2 linked regions of the Homo sapiens genome follow. The protein of the gene in region 1 interacts with the protein of each later gene in a pairwise test. Each region holds a gene or a part of one and is shown on either strand. Other genes may lie near its edges.

Region 1 (7,000 bases):
CAGGTTAAGCAGCAGCATCAGAAGGGACAGAGTAACCAGGCCCAGGCACGGAGGAAGTGACCAGCCCCTCCCTGTCCCTTCGAGTCCAGGACAACAACGGGCAGAAATCGAGAGTGTGCTCTCCCCGGCAGGCCTGAGAATGAGTGGGAATCCGGGACACCTGGGCCGGGCTGTAGATCAGGTTTGCCCACTTGATTGAGAAAGATGTTCCAGTGAGGAACCCTGATCTCTCAGCCCCAAACACCCACCCAATTGGCCCAACACTGTCTGCCCCTCGGGGTGTCAGAAATTCTAGCGCAAGGCACTTTTAAACGTGGATTGTTTAAAGAAGCTCTCCAGGCCCCACCAAGAGGGTGGATCACACCTCAGTGGGAAGAAAAATAAAATTTCCTTCAGGTTTTAAAAACATGCAGAGAGGTGTTTTAATCAGCCTTAAAGGATGGTTCATTTCTTGACCTTAATGTTTTTCCAATCTTCTTCCCCCTACTTGGGTAATTGATTAAAATACCTCCATTTACGGCCTCTTTCTATATTTACACTAATTTTTTTATCTTTATTGCTACCAGAAAAAAATGCGAACGAATGCATTGCTTTGCTTACAGTATTGACTCAAGGGAAAAGAACTGTCAGTATCTGTAGATTAATTCCAATCACTCCCTAACCAATAGGTACAATACGGAATGAAGAAGAGGGGAAAATGGGGAGAAAGATGGTTAAAATACATAATAATCCACGTTTAAAAGGAGCGCACTTGTGGCTGATCTATGCCAGATCACCATCTTCAAATTGGCACAACTGAAATTTCCCCACTCTGTTGGGGCTTCCCCACCACATTCATGTCCCTCTCCCGTGTAGGTTTCACATTATGTCCAGGTGCACATAGGTGGTATTGAATGCTCAGCAGGGTAGGGGCTGACCACTGTCCCTGATTCCCATCGTTCTCAGGCGGATTTTATATTTTTTTAAAGTCTATTTTAATGATTGGATATGAGCACTGGGAAGGGGACGCTAACTCCCCTTGATAAAGTCTCGGTTCCATGGAGGACTTGAGTGGCCCCAAAGGCTGCCACGGTGCCCTCACCCCAGCCCATGTGCTCCCATAAGGGCTGGTTCCTAGAGGCAGGGGTTGTGGGGCACTCCCAGCCACGGCACTGTTACCTTGGTGGTGGGACTTGGAACCCAACCCTGAGCTCCCGATAAAGCTAAAGTCCATCATCTGGCAAATTCAGTAAATTGGAGAGTACTTGCTTCTGTTTGTATCTGAGAGGAATTTTTAACTGACGGCTTCTGTCTCCATGAATCATTATCAGCATGATGAAAGGTGTGTCTAAAAAACAATTCAGAATACCAGCAGCATTGTACAGCAAGGGGTAAATAAGCTTAATTTATTAATTTACCAGGCTTAATTAAGATCCCATGGAGTGTTTAGCCCTTGTGGGAGACAGAAGCCATCAGTTAAATGAGGTTAGGCCTCTCCTCCTAATATACTGATTGACAATGCATATTAGCCAGGTAATGCACTTTAGCTACCCTGGACAATGCTATCAAGTGTGCTGGGAAGGGAGGAAGGCCTCTCTACATATGGAAAAGCCCATGCGTGGAGTTCCCCTCCTTTCAACATTGCAACAACAGTAACAACAAGACAACCGCAACATGTGGGCGTAGTCAGGCAATGCTGTGTGCGAAGTAAACTACCTCAAGGTATGAAGTTACCTCAGCAATTATTTTCCTTTTTGTTCCCCCCAACCCCATTAAAAAAATTTTTTTTTGATTTTTGTTTTTTTGCAGCTTGCTGATATTTTATATAAAAAAGAAAAGCAAAGCAAAAGAGAAGCTGATAGTCTTGAATATTTTATTTTTTTAATGAAAAGAAAAAACAAGAAAGTTATGTTTCATAATTTCTTACAACATGAGCCAGTAACCCTTTAGGAACTCTCTATGGAGAACAGGCCTGGTGGGAAAGGCTTTGGGGGCTGCCCCCTTAGGAGGAGGCTAGTGCTAAGAGGGAAGGCCCAGGTTTGAGAGAGCCCAGAGGGGCAGAGCCCAGAGCCTTGTTTGGCCCTGATCTCTGACTTCTAGAGCCCCAGCTGCTGGCGGCTGCTGGAATATCCTACCTGATAGGATTAAAAGGCCTAGTGGAGCTGGGGGCTCTCAGTGGTTAAACAATGCCCAACAACCAACCAGCTGGCCCTTGGTCTCCTCTCTTTCCTCCTTTGGTTAAAGAGCATCTCAGCCAGCTTTTCCCACCAGTGGTGCTGTTGAGATATTTTAAAATATTGCCTCCGTTTTATCGAGGAGAGAAATAATAACTAAAAAATATACCCTTTAAAAAAACCTATATTTCTCTGTCTAAAAATATGGGAGCTGAGATTCCGTTCGTGGAAAAAAGACAAGGCCACCCTCTCGCCCTCAGAGAGGTCCACCTGGTTTGTCATTGCAATGCTTTTCATTTTTTTTTTTTGTTATTGTTTCATTTCAGTTCCGTCTTGCTATTCTTCCTAATCTATATCCATAGATCTAAGGGGCAAACAGATACTAGTTAACTGCCCCCACCTCTGTCTCCCTGTCTTCTTTAGATCGGTCTGATTGATTTTAAAAGTGGACCCAAACTTAGGGAATTCTTGATTTAGGGTGGCTGGTGGCAAGGAGGGGCAGGGGATATGGGGACGTGACTGGGACAGGTTCCTGCCTTATCATTTTCTCCCTAGGACATTCCCTTGTAGCCCCCAGAATTGTCTGGCCCAAATTGAATAGAAGCAGAAAAACATTTAGGGATAACATCAGGCCAGTAGAATTAAGCCTCTCCACCTGTCCCAACCATAAAAAGGGTCTCCCAGCTTTCCATCTCTGGCTCTATATGCTTTATCCCAAAACAAAGCAGATAACGTTCAGACGTCGGCCATTTAGTAATTTAAAGCGAATTTCCAGCAGCAAGCATGCTTTGATATCTGGTTCAGACTATCATCAGGAAGAAAAAAAAATCCCACAGTACCTGAAATGTGATTGTTGCAGTGTTCAGTTTCCTTGGGGGCCTGCTCCCTTCACACCTTGAGCCCAAGTCCTTTTCCGTTGGCTGATTCAGCTCCCAGAAGAGACGAGGAAGTGTGTGGCAAGGGACTGGAAAACTTCACTTGCTTGGATTAGGCAAGGCTCCACTCATTGTTGATATTTGCCCAGCAGGAAAATCATGTAAGTTATACCACCAGAAAGCAAAAGGAGCATGGTTTGGTGGTTAAGGTTTAGTGGGATGAAGGACCTGTCTTGGTGGGCCGGGCCCTCTTGTGCCCCGTAGGCTAGGTCTTAGGGCAACTCCTTGCCCTCCTGCTCAGCACCTCCATTTCCCCATCCTTGGTGAGATAACAAGCTATCGCGAAAAGCACTTGGGAGATTTGGATGATTTGAGAAGAGTGACTTAAAAAAAATGCTTCTGTGCTCTAAGATATATATGTGTGTGTGTGTGCTACATATATATTTTTAAGAAAGGACCATCTCTTTAGGATATATTTTTAAATTCTTTGAAACACATAACCAAAATGGTTTGATTCACTGACTGACTTTGAAGCTGCATCTGCCAGTTACACCCCAAATGGCTTTAATCCCCTCTCGGGTCTGGTTGCCTTTTGCAGTTTGGGTTGTGGACTCAGCTCCTGTGAGGGGTCTGGTTAGGAGAGAGCCATTTTTAAGGACAGGGAGTTTTATAGCCCTTTTCTACTTTCCTCCCCTCCTCCCAGTCCTTATCAATCTTTTTTCCTTTTTCCTGACCCCCTCCTTCTGGAGGCAGTTGGGAGCTATCCTTGTTTATGCCTCACTATTGGCAGAAAAGACCCCATTTAAAACCCAGAGAACACTGGAGGGGGATGCTCTAGTTGGTTCTGTGTCCATTTTCCTCTGTGCCAAAGACAGACAGACAGAGGCTGAGAGAGGCTGTTCCTGAATCAAAGCAATAGCCAGCTTTCGACACATACCTGGCTGTCTGAGGAGGAAGGCCTCCTGGAAACTGGGAGCTAAGGGCGAGGCCCTTCCCTTCAGAGGCTCCTGGGGGATTAGGGTGTGGTGTTTGCCAAGCCAAGGGGTAGGGAGCCGAGAAATTGGTCTGTCGGCTCCTGGTTGCACTTTGGGGAAGGAGAGGAAGTTTGGGGCTCCAGGTAGCTCCCTGTTGTGGGACTGCTCTGTCCCCTGCCCCTACTGCAGAGATAGCACTGCCGAGTTCCCTTCAGGCCTGGCAGACGGGCAGTGAGGAGGGGCCTCAGTTAGCTCTCAAGGGTGCCTTCCCCTCCTCCCAACCCAGACATACCCTCTGCCAAACTGGGAACCAGCAGTGCTAGTAACTACCTCACAGAGCCCCAGAGGGCCTGCTTGAGCCTTCTTGCTCCACAGGAGAAGCTGGTGCCTCTAGGCAACCCCTTCCTCCCACCTCTCATCAGGGGTGGGGGTTCTCCTTTCTTTCCCCTGAAGTGTTTATGGGGAGATCCTAGTGGCTTTGCCATTCAAACCACTCGACTGTTTGCCTGTTTCTTGAAAACCAGTAGAAGGGAAACAGCACAGCCTGTCACAGTAATTGCAGGAAGATTGAAGAAAAATCCTCATCAATGCCAGGGGACATAAAAGCCATTTCCCTTCCAAATACTCGACAATTTAGATGCAGAACATTTCTCTGTATTCAGACTTAGAGTAACACCAGCTGAAAACTGCAGTTTCTTTCCTTTGGATACATAAGGCTTCTCTATCGGGGTACGGGACAGGGAGGAGGCCTCATGTCTGAAGGGGGATTTAGGGGCGAGAGCCCCAGCCCTGACCCTCGGTCCTGTGCACCGCTTTGGGGCACAGTCTGATGGCGCCTTTGCTGGCGCCTTAGTATGGTTGACTCCGGATGGACAAAAGAAAAAAAATTTTTTTTCTTGAATGAAATAGCAGGAAGCTCCTCGGGAGCATGTGTTTTGATTAACCGCAGGTGATGGATGCTACGAGTATAAATGGATTAACTACCTCAATCCTTACAGTAAGATTGGAACTAAGGGCAGGGACTCATGCATAAGGGTATGAATCCCAGCCAGGACAAGTGAGTTGAGGCTTGTGCCACAAAAGGTTTGTCCTTGGGGAACAGGCAGGCCTGCCAGGATCCCCCCCATATCGATTGGGCTGGGAGGGCTGGCCATGAGGTCCCCACTTTCTGCTTTCCTTGCCCATGTGTCACCCCTTTGGCCTCCAGCTTGTCCCTCTCTCACTTTCTATAGCTTTGTTGGACCAGATGGTGAGGAAAGGAATGGCCTCTTCCCTTCTAGAGGGGGCTGGCTGGAGTGAGACCTGGGGCTTGGCCTGGAACCCACCACACAGCCCCAAAGTCAGGAAGCCTGGGGAAACCAGAGCTGAGACCTCTTCAACAGGGTTTCTTTGAGATCCTACACCTCCATTGGGCCCTTTTTCAGTCTTCAATGGGGGCCCAGTTGGCTCTAGAAGGAGAAGAGGTGAAGCAGGATCCTTTGCCCTGGGGGAGTCTGAGGGCGCGGTCCTTGGACTCATTCAGGCCGTCTTTGTAGTTGGGGGAGTTCCACTGGGCGATCCCAGCCCCTCCCCACCCACCCTCTAATGGACCTCCTCATAGAAGCCCCATTTCACTTTTGTTTTATCTACCTCTTAGCAAAACAATAGATAAATTAGGTAGTGGCAGCTCCACTTGCTTAGGTTAGGGGGGGAAAAAGATTTCTTTTTCCAAAGGAAAAAAATATTACCTTGAGAATACTTTCCAAAAAATAAAATTAAAAAAAAAAAAACCAAAAAAAAAAATTTTTTTTTAAAAGGGAGACATTTTCCAGTGACCACTGGATTGTTTTAATTTCCCAAGCTTTTTTTTCCCCCATAAATAAGTTTCACTCTTTGGCGATTTTCTTCACTTGTTTAAGATAACGTGCTAGCTATTCCAACAGGTAACAGCTTTCACAGTCTGCCCCTGGCCTGTCTCACCCCATCCCCCACCCTATTCCTGCCAGTGAGTCCTTCCTGTGCTTCTCTCCCTTCTCCCCTCCCAGCCAGCTGACTTCAGTCACCCCTGTCCCCCCTCCCCTGCCAATAAGCTCCCCCAGGAATAAAGGCTTTGTTTTGGGGATGCTTAAATCTTGACTGGCACTTCCCGGCTGTGGGGGCTGGGGAGCCACTTGTAACATTTCTGTGCAGATTTTATGTTAGCCACTGCTATGTAAAAGCACGTTCAAAATGAATTTCAGCAGATTATGTGTTACCATAATGAATAAACGTCCTCTATCACCATTTGGAGTCTCCCTTTTCTCCAGGATCTTGATCCTGGTCCCCAAAACCAGAGTGAATCAAAAGAGCTTCCTCCCCTGAGGCAAAGTGGATTTGTAAGCAGTTCTGAAACATCACTTACTCAGAAGAGGGAACGATGTATTTTGATGAGTGCAAATTGGGAAGAGCTGGAGGCCTACTGCTTGGGACAGTTTTTTTTTTTTTTTTTTTTTTAAATATGAGTGCTAGCTTATTCTGTAATTGCGGCAACTTTGAAAATTGTATTTTACTGGAAATCTGCCAGCCATCACCACCCGATTTTGATTGTATCCTTCCTCCCATCCTTTAATCTGTTCATTGCTTTGGGGGAGGTGGGGCAGCTGGCTCACACGTTGGAGTTTGTTCTTTGATGGATGAACGAACACTCCAGTTTTCTTTCCCGTGAAGGTTGTTTCAGCCACAAACCACTTCATTTTGCTGTTTCAATTTCAAAATAAAAGGAAACTTATATTGAAAGACAAGTATGTCTGTGTCTCAGGGTTTTTGGGTCTGGGAGCTGAGATGCTCAGCCTCAGCATGGGAGCCCTGGTTCTCAGGGACCTGAGTCATCCAAATGCAAAGTAGGCATTTTTCTTAAATGTACAGAGGAGTGGTTTTTAAATGGTGCCCTGCTCTTAATTAGCTTTGCATATTGGGAGGGGGGCAGGTCAGGTGTTTGGAATGAGGACTCCAGCATTAAAGAAGATGTTGGGACATCACT
Region 2 (9,382 bases), on another chromosome or scaffold:
CTGGGATTACAGACGCCCGCCACCGCGCCGTGTTAATTTTTGTAGTTTTCGTAGAGACGGGGTTTTGCCATGTTGGCCAGACTGGTCTCGAACTCCTAACCTCGTGATCCACCCTCCTAGGCCTCCATAAGCAGGTTAGGCGCGGTGGCTCACGCCTGTAATCCCAGAACTTTTGGGAGGCCGAGGCGGGTGGATCACGAGGTCAGGAGATGGAGACTATCTCTTGAGCCTGGTGTGGTGGCGGGCGCCTGCAGTCCCAGCTACTCCCGAGGCTGAGACAGGAGAATCGCTTGAACCCGGGAGGTGGAGGTTGCCTGGGCGACAGAGAGAGACTCTCTCCAAAAAAACAAAACAAAAAAAACACATAAGCAAACAACTATACAAGCAGTATAAAGCATGTCTAATACTGCCATATCACAATGGCATATTTCAATAGGGAAATGGTATTTTAAATACCATTTTTTAAAAACCTTTTATTCTGGAAAACATGCGAAACTCGAATAGTATGGAGAACCCCATGTGTTAGTCACTCACTTAGCTTTGACAATTATTAACTCATAGCCAAGGTCGGTTTTGTTTCATGTTGTATCCCCCCACACAAACTAGATTATTTTGAAACAAATCTTAAACATTGTGTCACAACATTAGCGATTTTGACTTTTACCAGATTGCCCCAGATTAAGGTCACAAAATTTACTTTTAGTAGAATAATAGTTCTCATTTTTGTTTGTTGGGCTTCCCTTCTCTGTTTATACATGATTTCTGTACAGCAGAAAAGAAGAAGAAAATTAACTCTTGATCCAATGCCTTCAGCTCCTCAAAATCAAAATACAACCTTGCTGCTTTATTGTGTACAAAAGCAAAAATTCTTGAGCTATTAATGACTATAATTGAAAAGCGAACAAATACAGATTTCCCCAGTCCTGTTTTGGCAGAGACCTGCCTTTTAACCCACTTTAATAGAGATAACTTTGTGTCAAAGTTAAACTACAGTTAATAATTCATAATGAAAACTTAAAATGTTTCTTTACAGTAGTTGTGTAAAGATACTGCTGTTACCTTAGGTTAAGAATTAAGCAAAAGATAATCTTCTAACATAGAATTGTTTTCCAAAGTGCCCCCGTCTGCCCTATTTCCAAATAACAAATTTAGCAAATATGAATGAAACCTTAATTTTTGTGAATAGTATGAAATCACAGCATAAGTGTTCACGTTTTTCTTTCTTGTGTCTAAAGGATCTCTCTTACAATGGAAGTTGACAGGAATATTATAAATATTATAAATGTCTTTGTTGCATAACTTTCAAATTTCTGGTCGTGAATAGTTTTCAGCTTTTAGGTCTGTTATTTGAGTTTTGTAGGTGTACTTTGAGCTTGATCAGGTACAGTGGAAATGTTACATGTTATGTTTTAGTTATGACTACCTGGAAGATGGGGAAAGATACACCTCTTAAAATTGATTTAGGAAAGAAACGCCAATTTAGTATCTGGGAAAGGACACAACACATTTTTAAAAATGTGTAGTGCTTCCCATTAAGCTTAACGTAAAACTTTTAAGCATTGAGAATTGTTACCATAAATATAGTTTCTTGAGAATAAGTTGCTCTCTTTTAGGTTTCAGCCAGAAAGTCCATGTATATACAGATTACAGCAGGTCCTTGAATAATGTTGTTTCAAGATAATGTTGAGAAAAAAAACTGTCTGTGGAGTTTACACGTTCTCCCTATCCCTGCATGGGTTTTCTCTGGGTACTCTTGATTTCCTCCCACATCCCAAAGCTGTGCACGTGAGGTTCACTGGTGTGTGGAGCTGTGTGTGTAAGTGTGAGTGCTTTCTGCAGTGGATGTCCTGTCCAGGACTGGTTCCGGCCTTGCACCCTAAGCTGCTGAGATAGGCTCCAGCCACCCCAACCCTGAACTGGAATAAGTGGTAAAAAAAAAAATTTTTTTTTTTGAGATGGAGTTTAGCTCTTGTCACCCAGGCTGCAGTGCAATGGTGCAGTCTCGGCTTACTGCAACCCCATGCCTGTAATCCCAGCACTTTTGGAGGCTGAGGTGGGCAGATCACCTGAGGTCAGGAGTTGGAGACCAGCCTGGCCAGCATGGCGAAACCCTGTCTCTACTAAAAATAAAAAAAATTAGCCGGGCTGGGTGGCGGGCACCTGTAATCCCAGCTACTCAGGAGGCTGAGGCAGGAGAGTTGCTTGAACCTGGGAAGCAGAGGTTGCAGTGAGCGGTTATCGTGCCATTGCACTCCAGCCGGGGCAACAAGAGCAAAAGTACTTCTCAAAAAAAAAAAAAAGGCATGTATACTTCACATTTATTTCAGTGTTTAATATTCGAAGTGTTTGGTCTTTATTTAAAAGTTTGGTGATATTTTTCTGATGAGAAATATGCCCTAGAACCTAACTCTTGTTTGTATCAATAAGCGTGTGTTAGTCGGAAGTCTCAGTTTCCAAGAACCTACCCCTTATGTTAAGAGAGGATTTACTGTATTTTAAGTTTAGAAATGGCCATGACTCATGGAACTCTCCTCCATCCCCATTCTAAAGTCCAGATCATTGATATCATTCTGGGTGTTATCAAAATGGATACTGCTTCATCCAGTCTCTCTCCCCAATACCACAAGGTAGTCTCAGTTTGTGGGGCAACTTTCTTTGAGCCTTTTTACTGGATTGAGTAAGAGTGTAATTCAGTATAAAGATGAAACTTTCATGAAAAGGGTATCTTTTTGTGGGATTCCACAAGTCAATCCCAGAGTTTGTCGCCCAGGCTGGTCTTGAACTCCTGAGCTCAAGTCATCTTCCCACCTCAGCCTCCTTAGTAGCTGGGATTATAGGCAGAGGCCTTGTTTTCATGAGCCTCTAAATTGGATCTTCTTATTTGATGTGATACCCAGTGACACAGAATTGTTCAATTTGAGGAAATATAAATTCCTCCCCTCTCAAATAAGAGCTTTGGAGTTGCTTTTCTCTCAGAATGGGATTTTAGAGCTTTCAAAAATGTTTAGAGAATTTTATGACAGATTTGTTTCACACTAGACCTATAACAGGTTATTTTACATTGACTTCTGGTGATGGAGACATTTGTGGTTGAAATGCTTCTCGTGTAATTTTCTACATGAGCTTTTCTTTAAATAAAACTTCACCAGAGTCAAGGCTGTATACCATTTGTGCTGTTCCAAAAAATATAAATTGCCAGTTATCAGTTGAACTATGAGAGGACATGTTAGTTGCTATGGTTATTTACCCCCACCATTTTATTATGAAAAATTTCAAACATATAACAAAGTTTATGAAGTTTTATTGTACATCTCTTTAGATACCATCTACTTTCTATTTTTGCCTCCCTGTTTCATGGTGCTGAACACCGTCTACTATTTTTTTTTTTTTTTTTGAGACGGAGTCTGGCTCTGTTACCCAGGCTGGAGTGCAGTGGTGTGATCTCGGCTCACTGCAAGCTCCACCTCCTGGGTTCATGCCATTCTCCTGCCTCAGCCTCTCGAGTAGCTGGGACTACAGGTGCCCGCCACCATGCCTGGCTAATTTTTTTGTGTTTTTAGTAGAGATGGGGTTTCACCGTGTTAGCTAGAATGGTCTCGATCTCCTGACCTTGTGATCCGCCCACCTCGGCCTCCCGAAGTGCTGGGATTACAGGCGTGAGCCACTGTGCCCGGCATACCTTCTGCTCTTTGTCATGAACATTTTACCATACAGTATTATGAAGCTTGAATAATGTTGGCCAAATCCATTGTTCTCACCTGCTAAGGAGATAATAGGATTATAAATATATAGCTGTGTTGATCTTATCAAATGCCACGGGATGGATGGGCTTGGATATCTGTCTTGTTGACAGCTTAATGCTCTGAACTAGAAAACCTTACTGCAGAGAAAAGTAATATTTTTAAAGTGGTAAAATGGGAATTACTGCAAATAGCTTAATTTGTTTTTTAAGTGTTTACATTCCCATACTGGTGAATAAGGTTGATGTAACAGTGATTTATGTCACCAGATAAATGGAAGTAGAGAAAAATTTCTGCAGGCTGTTAATTGCTGTATATTTTCTGGGATTACATATGTTTATTTGTTAAAGAAGTAGACTCAGGGAACTCCCTCAAAGTATATTTACTGGAAGCAAAAGTGGAAAAATCTATTTGAGAAAGTGTTTGCTTTCGATTAAAAATTAGTCTTCTGAATATCAAATCTGTAACCCATCTGGCATCTGTTTAATCTGGAATCTAATTTGGGAAAGAAGTGTGATGACTATGTGGGTTTATAACAGTAATGGAAGCAAAACTGGCCATTTTATTATGATAGAAATTTTGTGTCATGTCTCCCAGACAATAAAGGCTAAGAAAATCTATTTAAATACATTGGGGTCTTTTCCCCTGAATGAACATGATTGCTGAGGGTTAAACCTTCATTAGATTGCCTCTGCTTTTTTTTTTTTTTTTTTTTTTTTTTTTTTTGTTGAGATAGTCTTGCTCTGTTGCCCAGGCTGGAATGCAGAGGTATCATCTCGGCTCACTGCAACCTCCACCTCCTGGGTTCAAGCAATTCTCCTGCCTTAGCCTCCCGAGTAGCTGAGACTACAATTGAGCACCACCACGCCCGGCTAATTTTTTGTATTTTTAGCAGAGATGGGGTTTTGCCATGTTGCCTAGGCTGGTCTCGAACTCCTGAGCTCAGGCAATCCGCCTGCCTTAGCCTCGCAAAGTGATAGGATTACAGGCTTGAGCCACTGTTCCCGGCCTTGCCCCTATACTTGATGTAGCTACAGAACTGGTTGCTCAGTGAGTGGGTTGGTTTTAGTCAGCATATTCTCTGATCCTATTTAAAATTTTTTACAAGTGGAGTGTTGCTGTAAGTTTTATAGATGTTTATGTGTAAGGACAGGTTTAGTGAATTTGCTGGATAATAATATTTACTGCTATTGAGCTCTTACCATGTGCCAGGTTAGAATTACAGGGTGAAAGTTATTTTATGCAGAAAAGGAATTAAAAGGTCAGGTTGAATTTACCTAATAATATAAAAGTTGCAGTTCATTTAGCTCTTTCCTTGAACCAAAGAAAAGGGTTTCTTAGACCCTTTATGTTGTATTTCTAATACTCATAAACATCTTTGCAGCGTAAAGCTCATAATAATTGCTGAGGATGCTGATGCGCTTCCGAGGGGCCAGATAACTGGCTCAGAGTCCTGAGGCACCAAGTATTAGTTCTAGAGCACAGGCTGGTCTGGCTCCAAAGTCAGTGTTCTTTCCACTGAACCATGCTTTGTCTCTAAATTATGCTTAGGTGCTTTTTGTTTAGGATAATTGATTCTGCTTGTCACTGGTGGCCCTCCCCTGACTCTCCCCACCGCAGCAGCTAGGATGAATTTTGCTCATTAGAACCCTAGATCAATTTGAAAGAAAGTCTGGTTAAGTAATAGTCTTTTAGATGGACCCTTGAAATAGCTTTCCAGTTTACTTTTATTTGTTATGTCAAATTAAGCTAAAACTTAAAGCTGATCCACAGGTTTGTGTGTGGGGAGGGGCTGTCTTATTAACCTTTGTGTTAAAGGAGGCCAGCTCCTAAATTACTGCTATCGTGTGTCATCAGGTTTGTTAAAAATTGCTGGCATGGTGGCCCACGCCTGTAATTCCGTCACTTTGGGAGGCCAAGGCAGGCGCATCACCTGAGGTCAGGAGTTCGAGACCAGCCTGGCCAACATGGTGAAACCCCATCTCTACTAAAAATACAAAAATTAGCTGGGTGTGGTGGTACGTGCCTGTAATCCCAGCTACCCCGGGGGCTGAGGCAGGAGAATGGCTTGAACCCGGGAGGTGGAGTTTGCAGTGACCTGACATCGTGCCGCTGCACTTCAGCCTGGGCAACAGAGCAAGACTCTGTATCCAGGGGGGGAAAAAAAAAAAAAGAACTGTAGTCCAGGTTGTTGCTAAAAAAAAAAATTCATTTCTTCTGAATTCTAACATTCTGCTTTAGTGGAAATGAGTTAACTAAGCTTCCAATTAACTTTATAGGATAGGTGCTGGTTGTCCTCTTTGCTTCCTAGCCCTTTCTAACATCCCTCTTGTGGCTAATACTGTTGGGAGTATTTAGTACAGCTTCCTGTTTGGAATTGAACTGCTTCCTGAACAATTTTGTTTTACTTTTGTTTGAAACGGTGATCTGAATCAGAAGCTTCTTTGGTATTCCACCTGGGCAGTCTTCTCTTATGGTTAGTCTTGAAAGGCTGGATCAGTGAAATTAAATCTGCCTTTGGATGTGAGCTTTTAGTGAAATGGTGTCTGAAGTTCCATTTTGTGTTTAACCTCAACTGAGGCTACCCTGTAGTCTGTAATGACATAGCATGTCTCATTAATCACTAATAGGTGTTGGAAATACCCCTTGGCATGAAGTGAGCAGATAATGCTGCTTACATTGTCACTATATTAGCTCCCTTCAGAGATGAGCTTTAGGATCTAACTAGATCTTGTCTGATTCTCTCCTATCTTTGCTGTTTTGAAATCCATGCCTTCTATAGATTACAATTAACTGAGGCATGAATTTTCTACCCTTGCAGATTCCACCCTGATTCAAATAGGGCCATTGTCTGCTGAAGCCATTGTGATTTTATGCAGAATGCTAGGCAGTCCTTTCCTCTGTCAGAAAGAACAATTTATATGTAATAATAAGTCTCATTATGCTTGGAAGCTTATTTTCCTTGTTGCACAATTGAACCAACCTGCTCATGAAAGCTCCATGACCCTTTACCTAGATGACAGTCAAATATAGTTAGGCAAATAAGTTTCCTTTTGGTTTGTCATTGAGTAAACCTTTGCAACCTGTAATGTTTAGCAAGTGACTACTTCTGTATAGTAATTTTCCTTTTAGTTGAGAATTTATTCAAGCACCAAACATAAAAAAGAATAAAAGTGAAATAAGCTTTCTTTTGCATAAGGGACTTTCTATAATTTGCTACTTTTTATCTTCTTTTTTTTTTTTTTGAGGTGGAGTTTTGCTCTTGTCGCCCAGGCTGGAGTGCAGTGGCGTGATCTCGGCTCACTGCAACCTCCACCTCCCAGGTTCAAGCGATTTTCCCACTTCAGCCTCCCGATAAGCTGAGATTACAGGTGCGTACCACCATGCCTGGCTAATTTTTTTTTTTTTTTTTTAGATGGAGTCTTGCTCTATCGCCCAGGCTGGAGTGCAGTGGCGCGATCTTGACTCACTGCAAGCTCTGCCTCCCGGGTTCACGCCATTGTCCTGCCTCAGCCTCTGGAGTAGCTGGGACTACAGGTGCCCGCCACCATGCCCAGCTAGTTGTTTTTTTTTTTTTTTTTTTAGTGGAGACGGTGTTTCACCGTGTTAGCCAGGATGATTTTGATCTCCTGACCTTGTGATCCACTCGCCTTGGCCTCCCAAAGTGCTGGGATTACAGGCGTGAGCCACCGCGCCCGGCCATGCCTGGCTAATTTTTATATTTTTATTTTATTTTATTTTTGAAGCAGAGTCTCGCTCTGTTACTCAGGCTGGAGTGCAGTGACCCAATCTCAGTTCACTGCAACCTCTGCCTCCCGGGTTCAAGTGATTGTTCAGCCTCAGCCTCCCAAGTAGCTGGGATTACAGGCATGTGCCACCATGCCAGACTAATTTTTTTTTATTTTTAGTAGAGACAGTGTTTCACCATGTTAGCCAGGCTGATCTTGAACTCCTGATCTCAGGTGATCCACCTGCCTTGGCCTCCCAAAGTGTTGGGATTACAGGTGTGAGTCACTGCGCCGGCCTAATTTTTGTATTTTTAGTAGAGATGGGATTTCACCATGTTGGCCAGCCTAGCCTCAAACTCCTGACTTCAGGTGATTGGCCCACCTTGGCCTCCCAAAGTGCTGGGATTACAGGCCTGAGCCACGGTGCCTGGTTTAGTATGCATTCTTGACTGGGGAAAATTGCAGTGGTAAGTGTGCACTATATAGATATATTGATAATGATCATGATGGCTTTGGATTATCTTTTGAAATTGGAGGATTTCAAAAAATAGATTTGCATATGGAAATGTGCATTTTTGTTGGTTTTTTGAGATGGAGTCTTGCTTCATTGCCTAGGCTGGAGTGCAGTGGTGCACTCAGGGCTCACTGCAGCCTCAATCTTCTGGTCTCAAGCAGTCCTCCCATCTCAGCCTTCCAAGTAGCTGAGACTACAGGTGCATGCCATCATGCCTAGCTAGTTTTAAACTTTTTGGAGAGATGGGGTCTTCCTCTGTTTCCTAGGCTGGCCTTGAACTCCTGGGCTCAAGCAGTTCTGTCTTGGCCTCCCAAAGTGTTGGGATTACAGGCGTGAGCCACCACACCTGGCCAAAACATGAATGTTTGTATGAATCTCAGCTATCACTGTGTAAAAGTATTTGAGATCCAAATGACTGCTGTATTTCTCCCCTCTCTCTCTCTCTTCTTTCTTTGCTAAGTTGATGATGGTTATTTTTTAGCATTGTCTTTATGTCTGACTCTAACAGCTCCTTTTTCCGTTCTTATATTTAGCTTTTTTTATGTGTGTTTTAAAATTTTTTTTTTGTTTTTGAGACGGAGTCTCACTCTGTCATCCAGGCTGGAGTGCAGTGGTGTGATCTCGGCTCACTGCAAGCTCCGCCTCCTGAATTCATGCCAGTCTCCTGCCTCAGCCTCCCGAGTAGCTGAGACTACAGGCGCCCGCCACCATGCCTGGCTAATTATTTTGTATTTTTAGTAGAGACGGGGTTTCACTGTGTTAGCCAGGATGGTCTCGATCTCCTGACTTCGGGATCTGCCACCCTCGGCCTCCCAAAGTGCTGGGATTATAGGCGTGAGTCCACATGCCCGGCCCTTAAATTTTTAAATTTTATTTTAATAGAGACAGGGTCTTGCCATGTTGCCCAGGCTGGTCTCAAACACCTGAGCTCAAGCGATCCACCTGCCTCGGCCTCCCAAAGTGCTGGGGTTACAAGCATGAGCCATCACACCTGGCCTTTATTTTTTACTTCTGCTTTGGGCTAGAAAACTGAACACCCTGGGCCAGGTGCGGTGGCTCACGCCTGTAATCGCAGCACTTTGGGAGGCCGAGGTGGGCGGATCACGAGGTCAGGAGATCGAGACCAGCCTGGCTAACATGGTGAGACCCATCTCTACTAAAAATACAAAAAATTAGCCGGGCATGGTGGCATGCACCTGTAATCCCAGCTACTCGGGAGGCTGAGGCAGGAGAATCGCTTGAACCCGGGAGGCGGAGGTTGCAGTGAGCGGAGATCACGCCATTGCACTCCAGCCTGGGCAACAGAGCGAGACTCTGTCTCAAAAAAAAAAAAAAAAACTAGACACCCTGCTTCTCAGAATAGGGGATAGGGAATTTGGAAACAAAACAAAAACTAGACA

The links.
Region 2: the proteins of IGF2BP1 (region 1) and STAU1 interact in binary tests that used the Homo sapiens proteins (3 or more experiments, as listed by UniProt).

Annotation. Positions count from the first base shown.
Region 1 is NC_000017.11:49,049,385-49,056,384, forward strand, and holds the end of IGF2BP1 (insulin-like growth factor 2 mRNA-binding protein 1), read left to right. Parts: coding exon 1-60; 3' UTR 61-6,761; downstream 6,762-7,000. UniProt on the Homo sapiens protein: RNA-binding factor that recruits target transcripts to cytoplasmic protein-RNA complexes (mRNPs). This transcript 'caging' into mRNPs allows mRNA transport and transient storage.
Region 2 is NC_000020.11:49,176,851-49,186,232, reverse strand, and holds part of STAU1 (double-stranded RNA-binding protein Staufen homolog 1), read left to right. Parts: intron 1-6,988; exon of another isoform or gene 6,989-7,935; intron 7,936-9,382. UniProt on the Homo sapiens protein: Binds double-stranded RNA (regardless of the sequence) and tubulin.